Linked DNA regions of Homo sapiens: region 2 is linked to region 1. Evidence: fine-mapped expression QTL. A gene starts in region 1. The other region holds a variant in brackets. All regions are shown on one strand. Distances are between the middles of the regions.

Evidence for each region. PIP is the estimated chance that this variant, and not a neighbour inherited with it, causes the effect.
Region 2: its variant is fine-mapped to the expression of VPS26B in lung (TOPMed, PIP 0.94).

Annotation. Positions count from the first base shown.
Region 1 is chr11:134,222,215-134,227,584 of GRCh38, reverse strand. It overlaps VPS26B (VPS26 retromer complex component B), which reads right to left and starts at 2,914. Exons shown (of 6, transcript NM_052875.5): 1 at 2,240-2,914. The coding sequence starts at 2,462. NCAPD3 (non-SMC condensin II complex subunit D3) reads left to right here and starts at 3,618. Exons shown (of 35, transcript NM_015261.3): 1 at 3,618-3,722. The coding sequence starts at 3,659. RefSeq lists enhancers at 2,028-2,177, 2,278-2,337, 3,128-3,177 and a silencer at 2,538-3,007.
Region 2 is chr11:134,145,481-134,150,850 of GRCh38, reverse strand. JAM3 (junctional adhesion molecule 3) reads right to left here. Exons shown (of 9, transcript NM_032801.5): 6 at 4,806-4,905; 7 at 2,175-2,304; 8 at 2,033-2,087; 9 at 1-1,705. The coding sequence ends at 1,670. NCAPD3 (non-SMC condensin II complex subunit D3) reads left to right here. Exons shown (of 35, transcript NM_015261.3): 35 at 1-738. Among named protein-coding and RNA genes, the nearest start is that of SNORD153, 3.2 kb to the left of the region's middle. The variant T/C (reference allele first, on the strand shown) is at 3,325.

The DNA.
Region 1 (5,370 bases):
ATGTCTCAGGAGTAAGGAGATAGACAAGAAATCAGGTGGGGCAGGAACAGCAAGCAGTTTCTTCAACTCCCTTTCATTTAGACCAGAGGAAGGCCTTGACACGGTTCCTAGAACAGCTAATTTCACACTGTCTGGGGCAGAAGACATTCTGGGTTATCTTTCACATACTGGTAAGGTACCACCATCTGGGAGTGATGGTATAGACACAGACTAAACATGCCTGCCAACACTAATTATTATTATGGAGCCAAAGAATCAATGCAATAACTTTAAAACTGCTACTAAAAAATACCTTGCTCAATAGGCAAGGATTTCTCGACTATTTACTATGCGTAGCATAATATGCTTTGGACTCATCCTGTTTATCCTGGGGTTCTTTGCTAGAGATGATTTTACCCTCCAGAGGATATACAGCAATATCTGAAGACATTTTTGTGGTCGCAAGTGGGGGATGCTACTGTTGTCTGGTCAGTAGAGGCTGGGAATGCTGCTAAACATCCCATGACAACATGCCAAACGATGCCAGACATCACAGTGCTGCTACTGAGGAACCTTGCCATCTACCCCACCATTGAACCCAGAAGCAGGAAAGCAGAAGGCATGGAACTCACTCTTCGGCCCCTTTTCTGGTACACTAAGACCTTTCATATTCTGGCTTTAAAATAACAACAAAGAGCTTCCTGTAAGATCAGCCAGTCTTCAACCTGATTTCATGTTCTTAAATACCAGAGGCAAAATGCTTGAGGCTGAGCAGTGAACCCAAGAGCCAGGCCACAAGGCCTCCTTTTCCCAGGGTTTCTCCTACCTGTGTCTCCGTGTTTCCTGCCTCTGTGAAAAAAAGACGGCAAATTCTTTGCTAAACTCTCAGGATAAGAGAGTTTAACAAAGATTCCCCAAGGAAGTCTCTAAAAACAGAGTTATGTATGCAGTGTGTGGTATCGGTATGGATTCTCTACCAGAGGTGTGTAGCTCACAGGGTATTTACTGTGATTCTACTCCTAACCTAACGACAAAAACAACTTATTTTAAAAGTACCCAAGCATTTTAATAATACACAAGAGTCTAAATAAGGCTTAGAATTGGAGACGACCCAGTCTTGACTGGGAGCTCCCCAAATCACTTTACCATTACTGCCTTTTACTGTCTAGTTCTTATTTGTTTATTTGTTTATTTTTTTGAGACAGGGTCTTGCTGGTTGTCACCCAGGCTGGAGTGCTGTGGTGTTATCACAGCTCACTGCTGCCTGGAACTCCTGGGTTCAAACAATCCTCCCATCTTAGCCCCCCGAGGAGCTAGGACTACCGGCAAGCACCACCACGACCAGCTAATTACAAAAAAATTTTTGGGGGTAGAGGCAGGTCTTGCTATATTGCCCAGGCTGGTCTCCAACTCCTGGCCTCAAGCAATCCTCCCACTTCAGCCTCTCAAAGTGCTGGGATTGTAGGCATCAGCCACTGTGCCTGGCGCTGTCTAGTTCCAATGATTAATAATCATGTTTAAAGCATTGAGAAACTCTGATCACTTAATTGTGGTTTTTAGAAACACCATTTCTTTGTCTTTAAACAGAAAATGTGGTAACTGAAAACTTGCATTCTAATAAAGAAGTCTAAGAAACGCAGCCTAGGTAGTCAGATTTAGACTGAAGATTATGGGTCTTCTTTCTGGAAACATGTACAAGCATAGGTAGTTCAGGGCTGAGGTGAGGTAAGAGAGAACTGGTTAGCTCTCTCACACCACATCTAAAGAGAAAAACGGGTTGGTGCGGGCTCTGGGAAGTGGGGCTCGGTGGACGAGCCTCACTTTGCGTCTGGCAGTTGCAGATGGCCGGGCGATGGGAAAGCCAGTATTGGCAGAGCGGTCTCCCCCTAACAAACCCACCTGCAGGCTATGGCCAGAGCACCTCACCCAGAAATCCTGGGGACAAGAAGCAAAGCCGAGTGCATGCCGGAGACAATGGGGAGAACCCATAGGCAAGGTGCCCATCCCACGAGGCACAGCAGGGCGCTTCCTCCCGCCCTCGCCGTCCCCATCTCCCTGGCAGCGCGCTGTCACTTTTGGCAGGGAGGACAGTAACGCAGGGGGAGTCGCCCACGGGCGGGACTTGTAGCTGAACCCCAGGCCTCAGACTGCAGTTGACAAGCGACTGTGACAGGCCTCGCCGGAGGAGCTGGGCCCTGAATCACCCTGCTCCCCGGCCGGCTGTCGGCGCTGGGGGAGGGGGTCCCGGGGGTCGACTCACCGATCTGCCCGATGAACTCGATCTTGATGCCCTGGTGCTCCAGCCGCTTGTTGGGGTTCTTGAGGGCAAGGCTCACCTTCCCGGAGACCGTCTCCCCGTCGTAGAAGAGGAAATATTTCTCCTTCTTCCCGTCCTCCGTCTTGTGCTCGGCCCGCTTCCTACTCTCTGCATCGTTCAGAAGGATTTCCACCTCCACGCTCTGCCCGAAGCCGAAGAAGCTCATCGCACCGCCGGGCCGGGCGGGTCTCGGTAAGGACCGCTCCCTCGCACCGGGGCGCGGGCTGCCCTAGGTAAAGAAGGCCAGAGGGCCCGATGCGCGAGCGCGCTCGGCCGCCGCGGGGCTGCCTGGCTCCGCCGCTGCCGCCGGGCAGTGGGCGCCGACGGACAGCCGGCTCCACGGGGGAGGGGCACGGCCGGGGGAGGCTGGCGGCTGCGGGCTGCGGCGCCCGAGCAGCAATGCACCGAGGAGCAGTGCCCTCGGCCGAGCCAGTCCCAGCCAGTCCCGCGGCCGGTGGCAGTGGGCGGGCGAGGGTCGGCCGTGCAATGCTGCGGGGGGCAGCCGCACAGAGCCGGGTGTGGGTGGCCTGCGCCTGCCGGGTGGGGTCCAGCGCCGAGCAGCGCTGCGAGCTGCCCAGCCTCCGGCGGTGCAACGCACCGAGGCGCTTCGGCGGCTCCGGGCGGGGGAGGGGGCGGGCGAGCTCCAGCCCGGATGCGCTGGAGCAGCGGCGCGCAGGCGCACCCCCTAACGCTCCTGGGACTCCCGGCAGCCCGGAGGAGAGCTCGCTGCGCATGCGCAGGGAGAGCGCGGCCGGCGCTCCAGCGGTCGGCATGGCAGCTGCTACCTCGCTGGGACAGGCTCTGGGCCCACGCGTGCCGCGCAGTCCCTACAGAACTGCAGTTGTCTTGTCTTCTCGGAGTGCTTTCGGCTACTTTTCCCTTATTACTTTAGCTCGATACACGTTGGGCTGCCTTTCACATTCGGATATTACGCTGTTCGAGTGCTGACGGGAAAGGCAGCCCTTTGACACGCACGCGAAATGTCGCCTGACGAGGGCAAAGGTGACAGTTACTACCGGAAGTACCCTATCTCAGATACCCTTTAGATTTTCCCCCATTGAAGAAAAACGAGGCGGGAAAAACGCTGTTAGGGTTTAACTCAGGCCCTGGCTCCTTCTCGAACGAATTAGCGGAACACCCGCAGGAGCCTTGTTTGGCTTCCACTTTTCGGCCCGCCCAGTTCTCTGAGCGTGCGGCGGACGACGCCGGTGATTGGTTGAGCGAATGGAAACGGCTCGGCGCGGTGGTTGGCCAGTGGGAAATTCTGTACGTTGTGATTGGTCCACAGGAACGACTCGGCGCGCGCGCGGGAGCGAGCTTTGAAAGTTGAGCACGGCGGCGGCGAGCCGGTGCCCTGGGATCATGGTGGCGTTGCGGGGCCTTGGTAGCGGCCTGCAGCCCTGGTGTCCGCTGGATCTTAGACTCGGTGAGCAGATGCAGCCGGGAGGCCCGGGGGCCAGGGCGAGGGTCCTATGCGTCCCCGACGATGCCTAAGCCCGGGCCGGGGTGCCGGTGGGGGCGGGGTGGGGGCGCCCGGCTGTCGGCGGTGCCTGGGGTCCCCAGGGCCGTGCCACGCCAGGATTGCGGCTAGCCAGGTTTCCCGTGGGGGCTCAAGCCGGCCAGGCCACCCTTAGAATAAGCGAATGTTGGCCAGTCTCTTCTAGCGCCTGTGCATCTGTTTTCTCGGCCTTCCCCTTCTTCCTGTGCGTGTCTTCGTGCACCTATCTATTCTTACCTATTAAGATGGTTTTAAATTGCAAATCTCTTTCTTCCGCCAGACTTATTTCTTGAACTTCATGTTCATAGGTTCCACTGGATGTCTCACATGCAGACATCATCAAACGTCACATGAGTGAAAATGGGATTCCCAAAGCCTGCTAATGGCACCATCCAAGCCACCAACCCAGGAGTCATGGCATTTCTGCTTCCCCTTTCATGCCCACTACCACTGTCCTGCCTCTGAGGTGTCTCAGGGCAGCCCCGCTCCATTCCTGATGCTGCTGCCTTCATCATAGCCTCGAGCAATTGCAGGAGTATTTTAGCTGCTTTCTGATGTTAACTGTGCCAGCCCATCCCCCACACTTTTGCAGAACGACTTTTGAAAACACAGCTTTGAATGTGTCAAGCCTGTACACCTTTAATGTTTCCCCTTTGTTTCCTAAATAAATGACCACATCCTTGGCATGCTTTATAAGAGCTGCCATTCTCTCCAGTTTGATTTTCCAAGAGCATAACCTTTGGAGTCGGACACACTTGGATTGTTCCCTTGGCTCTACCCCATAGCATCCATGTATTACCGTGCAGGTTGTTTATCCTTGCTAAACCCCTGTTTTCTGATCTGTCAAATGGGGAGTACAATATCTACCTCACAGGGGTTTTTGTAAAGATAAATTTGTACTTGCCACATAATAACTGCTGAACAGATACTAATACCCACAAGCAAACACTGTAACAATTTTGTTCATTTAGAAACACTTTAATTTCTTTCCCTTTGTGTGCTTTGTTACACTGTGCTTGCTGGGAGGCACTTTTCTGCATTTATTTGCCTGGCAAAACTCTTACATTCAGGTCCAATTGAAGAATCATCTTATTCCTCTCCCTCCTCCCCCAGTACTATTCCCTATTAAGCTCTGTAGCATTTTACATTTTACATATCTATTATTTTAACACTCATCCATAGCAAAAATAATAAATACCATCTATTGACTGTTTTTTATGTGGCTAGCACATTGTTAGGGCCTTTATACACATTATGTTTCACAAAAATCCTGTATTTCCAATGATGAAGGAGAGACTAATTATGTGTAAGTGATCAAGTCAGGATATTTGCCTCGTTCTGACTCAAAATTCAGTGGCCTCTCTTCTATCATAGGCTGCTTTTTTTGGTATCCTAAGTGTGAAATGTTGAGATCTTTGTGGACAAGAACCCTCTAGTATTCATCTTTATATCCCTAGAAGTATAAGTGGCTTCCCTAGTATTTTCTCAAAGTGTTTGTTGAGTGAATAGGTGATGTATTTCTTCCTCTTCTTCCATCCTAAGTGAAGTAGCAGAGCAGAAGTTACCTGCATTCGAC
Region 2 (5,370 bases), 77 kb after region 1:
TTAAAAGGCTGGACTGGCCGCCACTCCATCATGGTTTGTTTTGAAATGCGACAGAGCCTGTGGCGTCTGGGTGCTTTCTCTGTGGCAAAGAGGAACAGTGGGATCCATTTTCTTTTAAAAATGTTATTGTACTTGACAGACTTGATTTCGCAATTGCCTTTGGCCTTAGACAATCTTAACAAATAATTAAACAAACTTAAAAAAAAAAAATAGCATTGGGGGCCCTATTTTGTGAGCCATCCATAACCAAAAAGAGGTCTGTTACAGGAGCCCAAAGCTGGGACGCTACATGGAAGACACCAGTGTCCCTGCAGTGCCCACCTGAGAGCTGTGCTGGATGAAGCAAGGGCCACGTGAGTAAAGCTCACTGGGACACAGCCACTGCCAGGGCCCAAGGATGGCAGGGCCTCCTGGCAGACAGCGAGGCAACAGTGAGCTAGAGCGGGGGCGCCTGGCGCAACCCCAGGAGCTGACTGGCATCTGTGTATGTACATCTGAGGGCTTCTGGGTGGCCTCTGGGTACAGACTGTCCTAGTCATCTCAGGAAGAGGCAGTTCAAAGCTAACCTGAGAGGTTTCTTTTGAAGAGATGCAAACTGATTTCAACATTGCTTAACTGGAATTTTTAAAGGTTTCCTAAGCAACTATGGTCTGATGTGTAGACAGTATGAGTTCCCTTGTGAAAAAGGCTAAAACTTGTGTGAGAAAAGGAACATCACAGTAAACTTCCATGAGAGGATTCCTTGGGTAAAATACTCTTAATTATTGATATTTTCCAATTTAACACTAGTAGCTTGGAACTTCTACCTTAAGTTGAACTTTTTTAAAAAAATAGGTTATTTAACATTGTATGACAATATATTTACAGTTTAAATAGAAATTTTCTTTTCAATAATCAAAATACATCCTTAGCAAAAATTTAGATGTAAAATTTTATAAAATAAACAAGACCCATAGAAAAGCATATTTCAGTACCATTTCAGACTTAGCCTAAGACGAAGGTTTTCCTTAAATCCTGACACCCTGTTGGACAAGCAGGGTTCCTCAGGCAAGATCCCTCTTCCAGCAACCAATTTACCTTCCTGATTTTGGTTGTTTTTACAAAATGCTGATCCAAAAAGCTTCTCCACAATGGACACTGCAACACCGATCAGCAGAGCCTTTAAGAAGAAACTGCGGTGGTGTCTGTGGGCCGATGAAGTAAGGCTGCTGTGTAAGAAGCCTTTTCTGGGTTCCCGCCGGGATGCGCTGCTGGTGCTGTCCAGCCACCTCGCCATCTCACATGGTGCTGTCGTGGCTGCTGAACGACCAGTGGTGAACATGCTGGCTTCACAGGGCCCAGCACGGGCGTTTACGTGAGCAAACTCTTTAAGATCACCCTAATACTCATGCGGGAATCAGGCCAGAAACAGATTAGGAACCCAACTCAGTGAACGCACCCAGTTTCGCTTCCTTGTGGTTATATTTACCGGGTCCATCTTGAGGAAAATTCTTCTATTCATGTGGCTTGTTAGAGTAAGAAGAGTAGTGGTCAACTTTGGCCAAAACGAAAAGCTTCTGAATGAGTGTCTAGCTCTGTCCGAGTGCATCAGCTCTCGCTGCCTTGACAGGAGTTTCTAGCAGAGGTATGTGCACGTGCGCTCTGTGCGCTCTCAGCCACACCGCGGGTCTCAGATCACAAACGATGACTTGTGTCTGAAGTCGCCCTGCAAAGCCAACACACAGTTAGAGCCATCAAGGGGCCTGGTGGCAAGCAGGGAAAAACACGGAGTAAGTCTAACATGGGCTAAATACAGATGGAATAATCATTCTTAAAAAGTACCATCACTAGCGCTTGCAAAGCACAAATCCCATTAGTGTGTGTGTGTGTGTGTGTGTGTGTGTGTGTGTGTGTGTTACTGTGAAGGGGCTGAGGAGCTCAGGAGCTGCACAATCACTCAGAAATCTTCCCAGGAGACCCGTGTGGTTTCCAAGGGGGAATGTTGTTTTCCCTGCTGGGTACACCTAGGTTTCCAGGTTTACTAAATGATTACCTCCTCGTCAGTGCGGATGTAGTTAACTCCATCTGGTTTCCCTGGGTTCTTGTAACTATGAGGAGAAGAGAGCAGTTTAGCAACAGGGTTGTTATATTATTGCCAGCTTGAACTTCCCTTTTTTCACATAAGGCAGGCTCACCTTTCTCCATCCTGTTTATTGTTGATGAAGTAGCCACGTCTGTATGCACAGCAGATGCCCAACGTGATCAGGGCCAGTACAGCAAGGACAACCAGAACCCCCCCAATAATTCCGCCAATGTTCAGGTCATCTGAAGAAAAGGAGGTTTGGTGGAAGCCATGATACACACTATCTGTTATTTAAAAAGGCCCTGGCCCTGCTGTGCCTCCTTCCTTCACCCCAAACCCACTTGCCCCCTGCCCCCTCAGGCCTACCCCAGCTAGAAGAGAGAACACTTACAATCCTTCTAGCCTAGAACATATAGGACACCATAACTCCTAACTTCACACGTGAAAAGTACTGAGACTTCTACAGTTGAAATGCAGTCGCACTGAAAAGTGTATTAAAGTGGGCTTGGCACTGTAGGCTTAAAAATCCTCTGGCTGAATGCCTGAGATTACTTATGGAGGAAATGGTTATGAGGACAAGATTAGGAGCCAGGATCCCAAGAAGAAAAGAATCCCTAATTTCCAGGGCCTCCCTTTGTTGCAGATTGCTGCGGGGAAGAAAGGTAGCTTCAAGCCTTAAAGAATCTGTCTCAAAAAACAAACAAGTAAAGAATCCTAGGTAAGAACTAGAGCTTTGTCTCTGCCGGCTGCCTGACCTCCGATCTATAAGCCCTCTGAGAGGAAACCCCCTGGAACCCTTTTCTCATGTCTATACACTGGGCAAAGGCACTGGGTCACTTTCATATGGGGCTCTGGCAGCCGTTCCTTCAAGCAAGCGACACATGGAAAACTATGCAGGGAATTTATCAACAAGAGCCAAGTAACTTGGAAGTTTTAAAAAAATCTCCTTTATCCTAGTGTATTGGTTCTCAAAGATGAATGTACACTTAAAAATCAACTTGCAGGCCGGGCGCGGTGGCTCACGCCTGTAATCCCAGCACTTTGGGAGGCCGAGGTGGGCAGATCACGAGGTCAGAGATTCGAGACCATCCTGGCTAAGGTGGTGAAACCCCGTCTCTACTAGAAACACAAAAAATTGGCTGAGCGTGTTGGCAGGTGCCTGTAGTCCCAGCTACTCAGGAGGCTGAGGCAGGAGAAAGGTGTGAACCCGGGAGGCGGAGCTTGCAGTGAGCCGAGATTGTGCCACTGCACTCCAGCCTGGG[T/C]GACAGAGCGAGACTCCATCTCAAAAACAAAAAGTAAACTTGCAATCGTTTTTTTTTTTTTTTTTTTGAGACAGAGTCTTGCTCCGTCACCGTCACCCAGGCTGGAGTTCTGTGGTGCAATCTCGGCTCACTGCAAGCTCCGCCTCCCGGGTTCAAGGGATCCTTCTGCCTCAGCCTCCCAAGTTACTGGGACTACAGGCGCCTGCCACCACACCAGGCTAATTTTTGTATTTTTAGTAGACACAGAGTTTTGGCATGTTGGCCAGGCTGGTCTTGAACTCCTGACCTCAGGTGATCCACCCGCCTCAGCCTCCCAGAGTGCTAGGATTATAGTGTGAGCCACCACGCCTGGCATGCAATTTTGATGTTAAAATGTCAATTCCCAAGTTTCATCACTAAAAAGTCAATAGGCTAAAGTAGGTCTGGGGCAAAACTGCAGGAGAAAACAACCCTAGAGCAGAGTTTCTCAAACGTGACACATGAGAAGAATCCTTCGGAACGCTTGTCTCACACACAGACATTTCTAGCATATGTCTGAGGTGGGCTCGAATCTGTATGTGAAACAGTGGTCCCAAATGGGTATCACCAGGCAGTTTTGGAAAATGCTGCTCTGAGGAGAGCTCCAAATAGGGAGGAGGGAAGGATTCAAAAAATGCTCCTGGCTGGGCACAGTGGCTCATGCCTGTTAATCCCAGCACCTGGGGGAGGCCGAGGCAGGAGGATTGCTTGAGGCCAGGAGTTTGAGACCAGCCTGGGCAACACAGTGAGACCCCGTATCTACAAAAAATAAAATTAGCTGAGCATGGTGGTGTGTGCCTGTTGTTCCAGCTACTCAGGAGACTGAGGTGGGAGAATGGCTTGAAGGCTGGGTTTGAGGATGCAGTGACCTGTGACTGCACTCACTGCACTCCAGCCTGGGCAACAAAGCAAGACCCTGTGGTGTTTTTTGTTTTTTGTTTTTTAAGAAAAAAAAAAGCTCCCCAAGTGATTTGGACACATCCTCTCTGCCCCCACCCTCCTCTCAACGCCCCTCCATTAGGGGAACCAGAGCCCTGAGATAACATTACTCTAGGGGCTAAGCTTTGTCTGCAGGTAAAATTACTCGGGCTAAAACTGTCAGTTTTCTACAAGAGGGTTATAACTGGATAAATTTCTGGAGACCTGACACCACCTTACATTTTGATAATTCTATCAATTACCAAAGAATGGAGTTTACTAAACTTGCAGTGAAAGTTGCAAGGCTGGCCACGTTCCCAACACCAGCAGATCCCAGAAGGTTTTGTTTTGAGGACCTGCTTATCTGGACTCGGTTTTCTCAGCCTTCCCTTCACTGTGCAGTGGGTTCTGGTGGACCTAGGCAGCTCCAGAAGAAAGCTAACCCATGGCGGAAGAGTTCTCTAAGCTGATGGTATAATATTAAATTAAAATGTTCTATTCACTTCCCAGTCTTGCGATGAAACCTCTTCAAAAAAGAAACTCACAGACTTCCATCTCCTGCTCCTCACACCTGGCTGAGCCTGCGTCATTGGAAGCAATGCAGTAGTACTGCCCAGAGTCGTCCTTGTGAACAGCAGTGAACACCTGTTTCAGGGAATGACAAGTAAATAATCGGACCCATCATGGGGCCGATTTCTGAGAGCACAGCCAGCTGGGTCCAGAACTAGGTCGACACCTGCTCGCTTGCTTTCAGCTTCCCCAGCACTGTGCATGTTCCTCCCTGACCCACTCCCTGATACCTGCCTGACAGCTCCCCAACAACCAATCCCCTTGGGACTGGAGACACCAAAGCCTGGCAACATCCGAAATGGGAGGTGGAACCTTGCTTTTATTCTGGTAAAAGGGCTCTTCAATGATGACTGCTCCTGGGGCAACATTTTGGCAAAATGAACACAGAGGACCCTGTTAAAATCTGTCTGATGACTACGTGGAACTGGATGGTCCACAGATCAGAAGGTACCTCCCAGGAGAGAACCACATGCAGTAAAAGCCTGGTGTGGTTTGCTGGCCAGGTCACTTTGTCCTCTAGTGCATGACCAATCTGTTTCC